2 separate regions of the Homo sapiens genome follow, and region 2 is reported to be linked to region 1. Evidence: microRNA targets listed by miRTarBase, many of them from high-throughput screens and not tested one by one. Region 1 holds a microRNA gene; the other region holds the end of a gene's coding sequence.
Evidence for each region. Region 1 holds the annotated microRNA hsa-miR-324-3p (CCCACUGCCCCAGGUGCUGCUGG, at 1,044-1,066, opposite strand). A microRNA usually pairs through its seed, bases 2 to 8, with sites in the 3' UTR of a target mRNA and lowers its output. Matches are read on the target gene's strand: a 7mer-m8 pairs with bases 2 to 8, a 7mer-A1 pairs with bases 2 to 7 and ends in A, and an 8mer does both.

Region 2: miRTarBase lists SAPCD2 as a target of hsa-miR-324-3p. Seed matches in the 3' UTR shown: 7mer-A1 at 2,399-2,405 and 7mer-m8 at 1,118-1,124.

Annotation. Positions count from the first base shown.
Region 1 is chr17:7,222,265-7,227,852 of GRCh38, forward strand. MIR324 (microRNA 324) reads right to left here and starts at 1,115; the gene lies at 1,033-1,115. It overlaps ACADVL (acyl-CoA dehydrogenase very long chain), which reads left to right. Exons shown (of 20, transcript NM_000018.4): 9 at 1-38; 10 at 403-601; 11 at 869-973; 12 at 1,380-1,466; 13 at 1,549-1,611; 14 at 1,704-1,805; 15 at 1,882-1,979; 16 at 2,057-2,129; 17 at 2,216-2,288; 18 at 2,378-2,450; 19 at 2,545-2,620; 20 at 2,693-3,002. The coding sequence ends at 2,833. DVL2 (dishevelled segment polarity protein 2) reads right to left here. Exons shown (of 15, transcript NM_004422.3): 11 at 5,391-5,519; 12 at 5,140-5,271; 13 at 4,826-5,005; 14 at 4,157-4,375; 15 at 3,078-4,049. The coding sequence ends at 3,601. RefSeq lists an enhancer at 2,692-3,191.
Region 2 is chr9:137,061,978-137,064,977 of GRCh38, forward strand. SAPCD2 (suppressor APC domain containing 2) reads right to left here. Exons shown (of 6, transcript NM_178448.4): 5 at 2,886-3,000; 6 at 150-2,810. The coding sequence ends at 2,682. Among named protein-coding and RNA genes, the nearest start is that of SAPCD2, 7.1 kb to the right of the region's middle. RefSeq lists an enhancer at 1,832-2,609.

The sequences.
Region 1 (5,588 bases):
GCTTTTGTGGTGGAGAGGGGCTTCGGGGGCATTACCCAGTGAGTGAATTTGGGTTGGGGGAGCTTAGGACTGAGGGGCAGGACTGGGCTCCTGGGCAGATGGCTGTTGCAAGTCACCCTGGGGACGTGTGCAAAAGCCAAAGCAGGTGGACTGAATGTGGCCTTTGGGACTAATATGTATGCAACTGAGCTAAAGTTTTGGCTCCAGCAACCAAGTCCAACACAAAATAGGACATAGCCAGGCCTCCTTAGCCCTCAGGGCCTGAGGGGAAGTGGTGGCTGTAGCCTCTAATAGTCTAGTGGTCGTCATTCCTCCCTGGTGCATAAGGAGCGAAGGAGCAGTTTTTCCCCCAGTGACAACCTGTTGAACACACCTCTGCTTTCCCACACTGCCCTGACACAGTGGGCCCCCTGAGAAGAAGATGGGCATCAAGGCTTCAAACACAGCAGAGGTGTTCTTTGATGGAGTACGGGTGCCATCGGAGAACGTGCTGGGTGAGGTTGGGAGTGGCTTCAAGGTTGCCATGCACATCCTCAACAATGGAAGGTTTGGCATGGCTGCGGCCCTGGCAGGTACCATGAGAGGCATCATTGCTAAGGCGGTGAGTACCCTGCCCGAGTCCCTAGGTAACCCAAACAGAAGTCTCACTGTCCCCCTTGCCATGTGTCCCTGATCACTTGCAGGCACTCCCTACACTAGAAACTCCTCCCCTACCAGCAGCCCGACTTGCTAGCTTAGGTCTCCATCCAGCGTAGACTGAACTCTGGTTGTATGCAAAACCCATCCCTCTGGCGCAAGCCCAGCCCCTCTCCTAGGGAGACTGCAGAACCACACTGAACCACAGCGGGATGTGTGGACCCTCTTCCAGGTAGATCATGCCACTAATCGTACCCAGTTTGGGGAGAAAATTCACAACTTTGGGCTGATCCAGGAGAAGCTGGCACGGATGGTTATGCTGCAGTATGTAACTGAGGTGAGGGCCTCCCAAGCCCCTCTCCCTGGAGCCCTGGGGCTTTCTTCCCAGTCGGGTCAGACTACAACCCCCAGCAGCACCTGGGGCAGTGGGTCTCCAGCTTTACACCAATGCCCTAGGGGATGCGGGGAGGCATAGTCAGCTCAGCTTCTGCGAAGAGAGACAGCAATGATGTTCTGCTCAGGTGCCTGCCAGCAGTACCAGAAGTTAATTCTACCTCATCCCTTACATCCACCCCTTTTAAGAAAACAAATACCTGGAAGCACCTGATGAACTGACCCAGAACAAGTATCTGCCTGACCTGACAAGCTAGGTCAGCCCTTATCTTGGAGATCTGGGTGATGAGGCCAAGTCTGACAAAGCCCTTTGCAATTTTCCTTCCCATGTCCCAACTATGCAACCTCAGTCCATGGCTTACATGGTGAGTGCTAACATGGACCAGGGAGCCACGGACTTCCAGATAGAGGCCGCCATCAGCAAAATCTTTGGCTCGGTGAGGTCCCAGGCATGCTGGGAGGGAGTCCAGTTTGGGTGCTCAGCTCCCAAAACCAGTCTCATCTGTTCTTTGTCCCTAGGAGGCAGCCTGGAAGGTGACAGATGAATGCATCCAAATCATGGGGGGTATGGGCTTCATGAAGGTACAGGACGGTCTTCTGCAGAGCCTCGGCTGGGCCAGGGGTGGGTAGGCACATCTCAGCACGGGCATATAATTTGTGTGGCCCTGTGCTAGGAACCTGGAGTAGAGCGTGTGCTCCGAGATCTTCGCATCTTCCGGATCTTTGAGGGGACAAATGACATTCTTCGGCTGTTTGTGGCTCTGCAGGGCTGTATGGTAAGACAGAGAATTGGGTGGGGGTAGAGGTGGGGAGGACAGTGAGTCCTGACTGCTGGACCCTCTTCCCCCATAGGACAAAGGAAAGGAGCTCTCTGGGCTTGGCAGTGCTCTAAAGAATCCCTTTGGGAATGCTGGCCTCCTGCTAGGAGAGGCAGGCAAACAGCTGAGGCGGTAGGCTTAGGGCCAGAGCCAGGGGAGGGCAGGGTGGTGTATGGCAACTAACCAGTCATTCTCCCTCTTCCTCTCAGGCGGGCAGGGCTGGGCAGCGGCCTGAGTCTCAGCGGACTTGTCCACCCGGAGTTGAGTCGGAGTGGCGAGCTGGTAAGTGGCCAGGGGTCCAGGAGAGCCTGCATCAGGGACTGCAGCCGATGGCCCCTCTGAGCCCCGCACTGTCCCCATCTCTTAAGGCAGTACGGGCTCTGGAGCAGTTTGCCACTGTGGTGGAGGCCAAGCTGATAAAACACAAGAAGGGGATTGTCAGTAAGTGAGCTCTACACCATTCCGCCCCTCCCTTTCCTCTCCTTGAGACTAATGCCCCCACCCCCACCCCCACCCCACCTACCGGACAGATGAACAGTTTCTGCTGCAGCGGCTGGCAGACGGGGCCATCGACCTCTATGCCATGGTGGTGGTTCTCTCGAGGTGAGGAGGCAGGCAGGGAATGCCTGAGCCGCAGGGGGCCTGGGCCTGGATCCCAGCCGGCCCAGATTTATTTTCATCTCCTGCTTCCTGCCAGGGCCTCAAGATCCCTGAGTGAGGGCCACCCCACGGCCCAGCATGAGAAAATGCTCTGTGACACCTGGTGTATCGAGGTGAGACTCGGGGCTGCCAAGCTCAGGTGAGGGCTGGAGGTGCAGGCCCAACCCCTCCTTCCCTCTCCCCAGGCTGCAGCTCGGATCCGAGAGGGCATGGCCGCCCTGCAGTCTGACCCCTGGCAGCAAGAGCTCTACCGCAACTTCAAAAGCATCTCCAAGGCCTTGGTGGAGCGGGGTGGTGTGGTCACCAGCAACCCACTTGGCTTCTGAATACTCCCGGCCAGGGCCTGTCCCAGTTATGTGCCTTCCCTCAAGCCAAAGCCGAAGCCCCTTTCCTTAAGGCCCTGGTTTGTCCCGAAGGGGCCTAGTGTTCCCAGCACTGTGCCTGCTCTCAAGAGCACTTACTGCCTCGCAAATAATAAAAATTTCTAGCCAGTCATGCTTTGCTCCTGTGTGACGGTTCTTTCCCCCTGCTGCCTGCCTCCCTCCCAAAGAAAGGAGCCAGAGGCGTGGGGAGTTTGCCTCTATTGCTTTATTTGGTGTTTTATACAAGTGACTAAAATAAATAGAGTAACAAAGGCAGCTACATGGCCCAAATCTCCCAGCTTCCTCAGGCTGCTGTCTAGGATGCCTAACCCCGGGGTACCGCTGACCACCCCCAACCCTGCAAAGGGCAGGGCTGTGGGTAACTGGAGGAGGAGGTCACATTCTGGGGTTAGAAGGGGCCCAATGGATGGGAATTCTTCATATAAAAGAGGAAATGCCTATTAAAAAAGTCCCAAAAATGTAAGAAACTCTATTTTAACCCCCAAAAAGGCTTATAAAAAAACAAAGCTAAAAATAATCAAAGGTCCCTTGTCTACCCCTGAGGGAAGGGGGAGGAACCAGGCACTGCTGGTGAGAGTCACAGTGGCCACAATCTCCTGTATGGCAGCAGCTGGTAGGCTGAGCCCAGGCACTGTAAGAGCAAGCACATGACGGCCAGGACACCCAGTCACACACCAGGAGCGCCCGGCCCAGCCTGGCCCCACAGTGGGCTACATAACATCCACAAAGAACTCGCTGGGATTGCCCATGGCCATGTGGAAGCTTTGGCGGCTGGCTGTCAGTTCTGGGGGCACAGAGCCCAGGTCTCTGACTGGAGGGGCCCCCGGAGGCTGCACTGCTGGAGGGACTGGAGGTGGAGGTGGGGGCATCATGACCACCATCATGGGGTTGTAGGGGAGGGCCATGCCAGGGGGCGGTCCATAGGGATGGAGCCCTGGGTGGGCTCGGAGATTAGGGGCACCCCCAGTTGAGCCTCTGGATGGAGGAGGGCCCCCATCGCTAGTCCCACTTGCTTCCCCACCCCGCCGAAGGCTGCCCCCTCGGCTGGAGGGCTCAGACTCACTGCCACTGCCGGACTTGGACTCGGGGGCCCGCTCCTCGGGCCTCCCCGTGCGCCCTGCCCCCCCATCACTCCGTGTCGACCCACTGCTCCGGCTGCCTGTGGAGGGAGGGGAGGGGCAACTGAGTCCTCACCCAGGCTCCTCCCTGGCTCCCCTCTCATCCACCCTCAGATCCTGGCCGTACAGGTATGTGGGGATGACTTACCCTCACTATGCTGGCTGCTGGCACTGCCCCCACCATAGGTGTAAGATGAAAGCTCATGGTAGGGTGGAGGCTGCGGGCTGTAGGGGTGTGGGGCAGGGTATTGGTAGGAGAAAGTGGGCAGCAGGGGCCAGGGGGTGGCCCCAGGCAGAGGAGCCAGGGTATCCTGGTCTGAAGCCCCACTGGAGCCATCGTTGTCATTGAGAGACAGGTTGACTAGGTCTGGAAAGCAAGGGAAGAGAGGAAGAAATCACTGCTTCAAGAGGCTAGGGCCCCAAGACACCGAATGGAGAGGAACTGGGAACAGTTCTCCCAGACCCACCCACGATGGGGCTCAAAACAGGGGTTCACAAGGGTCTCTGACAAGAAACTCCCATCTACTTCTGCCATGAGGGCAGGGGCACAGCCACTAGCCCACGTCTTTGCGGGACTCAGGTAAGAGGTGCACCTTCCCCCGGTGGACACAGTCCTGCACCTGGCACATGGCTTGTCCAGCAGCACATGGGTGGACGTCAGCCCCCATCCTCGGCCAGTGCAGGACCTAGTGCGGGACACACACTGCTCGACCATCCATGGTGGCCCTGGCTGCGGTTTCTGGGCTAGGTCTAGGGTTGGAGAGGCAGAACAAGGTAGGCAAAGCCACACTCCCAGAGTTGGGGCAGGGGGACTTACAGCTCTCACAGCCACCACTGAGGTCTCCGAAGACGTAATAGCACTGCTCAGAGAAGGTGATCTTGTTGACGGTGTGTCGGATCAGGCCTGCTTTGAGCAGCCCGCTGGCATACTTGCGGGCCTCCCGCCGCTCAGGAAAGCCCTCCACGTGATGGTAGAGCCAGTCAACCACATCCGAGCCTGGGAGCACCCACAGTGGAAAAAGGCCTCAGGTTCTTCTTCCAACTCCTGCTCTCGCCTCTGCCTGTGCCATTCCTGGCTTTGGTCACCACCTCCTCCCCTTCTCCAGCCACCTGCCCAGGACCCAGCCATACCCAGAAAGGCATTAGGGATGGTGATCTTGAGCCACATGCGGTCCCGGACTTCCAGTCCAGACTCTGGAGCTGCCATGGCCTTGGTCACCGATGCCATGTCCGTATGGACGGAGAGACCCCGGCCTTCACAGCCTGGCAGAGGAGACAACGGGTAACCAGAGTCAGGGATCGCTCCCACAAGGGCAATGGATCAGACCACTGCGGGACAGCCTTCTGCTGGGAGGGTGGGATGAGGTGGGCTGGCGGCTCACCATCAGGCAAAGACGATCCAGATGTAATGGTGCTCATGGAGGAGGAACCTGGATAGGCTGGGAAGGTGCCAGTCAGAGCCGCGGAATGGGACACCCAGGCAGCAGGGTCAATTGGCTGGATGGGCTCATCTGGGACAAAGATGGCACCAAAATGACCCATTCTCAGTCCCCAAAAGCCAGCCCAGTCCCTCCCTGACT
Region 2 (3,000 bases), not on the chromosome of region 1:
CAAACTCCTGGCCTCGGGTGATCCACCCACCTCGGCCTCCCAAAGTGCTGGGACCACAAGCATGAGCCACTGCGCCCGGCCTAGTCTTCTTTATAGCATTAAGAGATCATGCTTTTCATGGAGTAAGGAACTATAAATACCACTCCTTGTTCATGTTTCCAGAAATCTCTTTTATTTCTTTAGATATATAAAACACTGTTACTTTATATTCTCTCTGATAATTCTAGTATCTGGGTCTAGAGTCAATCTGTTGCTTCTGCTGGGTCTCATAGTGTATTGTTTCCTTGTGGTGTTTATGAATTTTTAAACCTGGATCTCTCATTTTCTTTCTTTCTTTTTTTTTTTTGTAGAGATGGGGTCTCTCACTGCGTTGCCCAGGCTGCTCTGGAACTCCTGGCCTCAAGTGCTGGGATTCCAGGCGTGAACCACCACGCCCGGCTGAGATGTTCCTTTTCCTTGGAACTTGATCAACACAAAATCCTGAGGCCTGGTGTGGGTGTGTTCCTCTGGGGCAGATTCTCAACTGGGGACACTTCTGCCCCCAAGGACACATTTCAACATCCTGAGACATTTCCGGGTGTCATCACAGTGTGCACGCACGTGTATGTACCTGCACACGCTACTGGCACCTCGCGGATAGAGCCCAGGGACGCTGCTCACATCCTGCACGGAGACTGACCCGCCCAGCGTCCTAGGGCAGGCTCCAGGCAGGGTCTGCATGTGCCTCTGCCAGCCACCTAGACCCTGCCAGCCGGGGCCTTTAAATTCTCCCCTCGTGGTCTCCAGGGCCACTCACTAGCCTGATTTCAAGCTGTAAACTGGGAGGACCTATTTCTTTTCACCTTGCACGGAACACCAAGGCTGAAAGGCAGTTTTTCCGGAGGTGCCAGCCTGTCTCACATTTCCGCTTCAGCTGCGGGGTCCAGCTCTATGTGGGCGGTCTCCTGATGAAGTCACCCCGGGACAGACACTGTTCTGTCTCCTGCTTCCAGTCCAGTAAAGATGCCAGGATCCCCCAGGGCATGGCAGGCACCCTCAAAGGCAGACGTGGGGAGGCCCTGGTGGGCAGACCCCAGCCTGCTGACGGGGGGCTTCTCCCTGGCTGCCACTGGCCCACCCACTGCGCTGCAGTCCACCTGGTGCTGGGGCTGTGGGGCACAGGCCCTCAGGACCTGCACCCTTTCCTGCCCAGGAGGTCCAGGCCTGACATCCTTATGTCCCCTGGAAAGCCCACTCCCATCTTCAGGGTAGGAGGGCAGCTGCATGCTGGGCTGACTTGGGCCTGTCCTGGGACACCCCTGCAGACCAGGTGCAGCAGGGAATGTGGCTCTGTGGGGTTGCTGTGGGCAGGTTAGCATGGAGCTGGGCTCCGGAAGGGAGTTGCCACGCTGCCTGCCAGGGCCCCTCCTCTGAGACAGGTGCCTTGTGGGACAGTGTACCAAAGTGCCCTGGACACGAGGGGGCCCTGCGCCCCCCACGCACTGACCCCGCATCGGAGGCCCTGCGCCCCACACACACTGACCCCGCATCGGCATCGGGGGCCCTGCGCCCCCCACGCACTGACCCCGCATCGGGGGCCCTGGGCTGCAGAACCCATCGATGCTGTTGCCGTGCCCCTGGTTCTGGTGACACTGGGACCCTCCAGGTTGGGCTGAGCAGGGCCCCCCCACCAGTGCGTACTCCAGCACCAGCGGGAGTGGGCCTGGGCAGGGGCTGAGGGAGTGACACCCAAGGGGACCTGCCCCAGCCTCCTCCTGTACCCTGGGGGTTCTCGTTTTCCTTGGCTGAGGGAGGTGGCCTCTCCCAGCTGAAACCTGGGGACAGGCTGGGCGTGAGAGCAAAGGGGGGTGAGCAGGACCCCAGGCCTTGGAAATCCTGAGTCGGGGGAACAGGCTTTGCCTATGACGTGCCTGGGAGCTGTCTGGGGGCCCTCCTGGGGAGCCAGGCTCACAGGATGTTGTGTGGGACTCAACGTGGGGCAACGTCCCGGCCAAGAGGGGGAAGGCCATCACCCCAGGGTCTGTGGGAGGCACATGCAGGCCAAGCTCTCGCCCACCCGGCGTGCCGATCCGCTGCAGCCAGGGTCCCTCAGCCTTGGCCAGAACCTGAAGTCCGACCGCTATCCCTGGGGCTCCCCAGCCAGGCAGGCACCCCCCGCTTACAGGCCGTCCCCACCCCCTCCATCTACTTCCGTCCGTCCGAGCTACAGCCACCTCGTCCTGGTGCCCTGGTTGAGCGGGAAGCTGCCCTTGGACCCGCGTCGGAGCCGCCCCGCGCCCTCTGCTGCCCGTTGTTGGAAGTGCAGCCTGGCGTGGGCAGTGCCTTTCCCTGAAGATGGGACCCAGGGCGGCACCGCTGGAAACGGGGGGACGCTAACTCATGGAGGGGTACCCCACTGTCCACTGACAGCGGCAGTAGTAGCTGCGGACTATGCGGACTCAAGAGAGCCCCAGCCCATGTCAGCACCAGGAGCCAAAACGGAGTCAAGCGCTCGGTGCGGGGACCAGCCGGGGGCAGGCCTGGGGAGCCCATCTGGCAAGGGCGGCAGGAAGGCGCCCACTCCGGGACTGTGCCTGGGCCTGCCGGGGGTCTCCAGCCAGAGAGGGTGGGTGCGATGGGGCGCCCACCCTCGAAGGGCTGAGTGCCAGGCTGGCCCTGGGGGCCCACGCGGCCCACAAGGACTAGATGAAGGTGGAATCCAGAGGTCCCCCGTCCTGCTGGCTCAGGGCGCGGGCCTCAAACAGCTGCTTAATGAGCGCCGACTTCTCCTGCTCCAGCTGCGTGATGCGCTCACTCTTCTCGGTCACCTCCTGGGCAGGTGCACAGTTGGTCAAGGCCTGCGGGGCCTCACCCCCACCCCTGCACCCCTCCCGCGCCTGCCCTACCTGGGTGAGGAGTCGGTTCTGCTCCTTCAGCATGAGGATGGTCTGCTGCTGCCAGACCGGGGGTGAGGTGGACGTCAGGGCAGGGCAGGGGGGCCCGGAGGAGGACGGGGGCAGG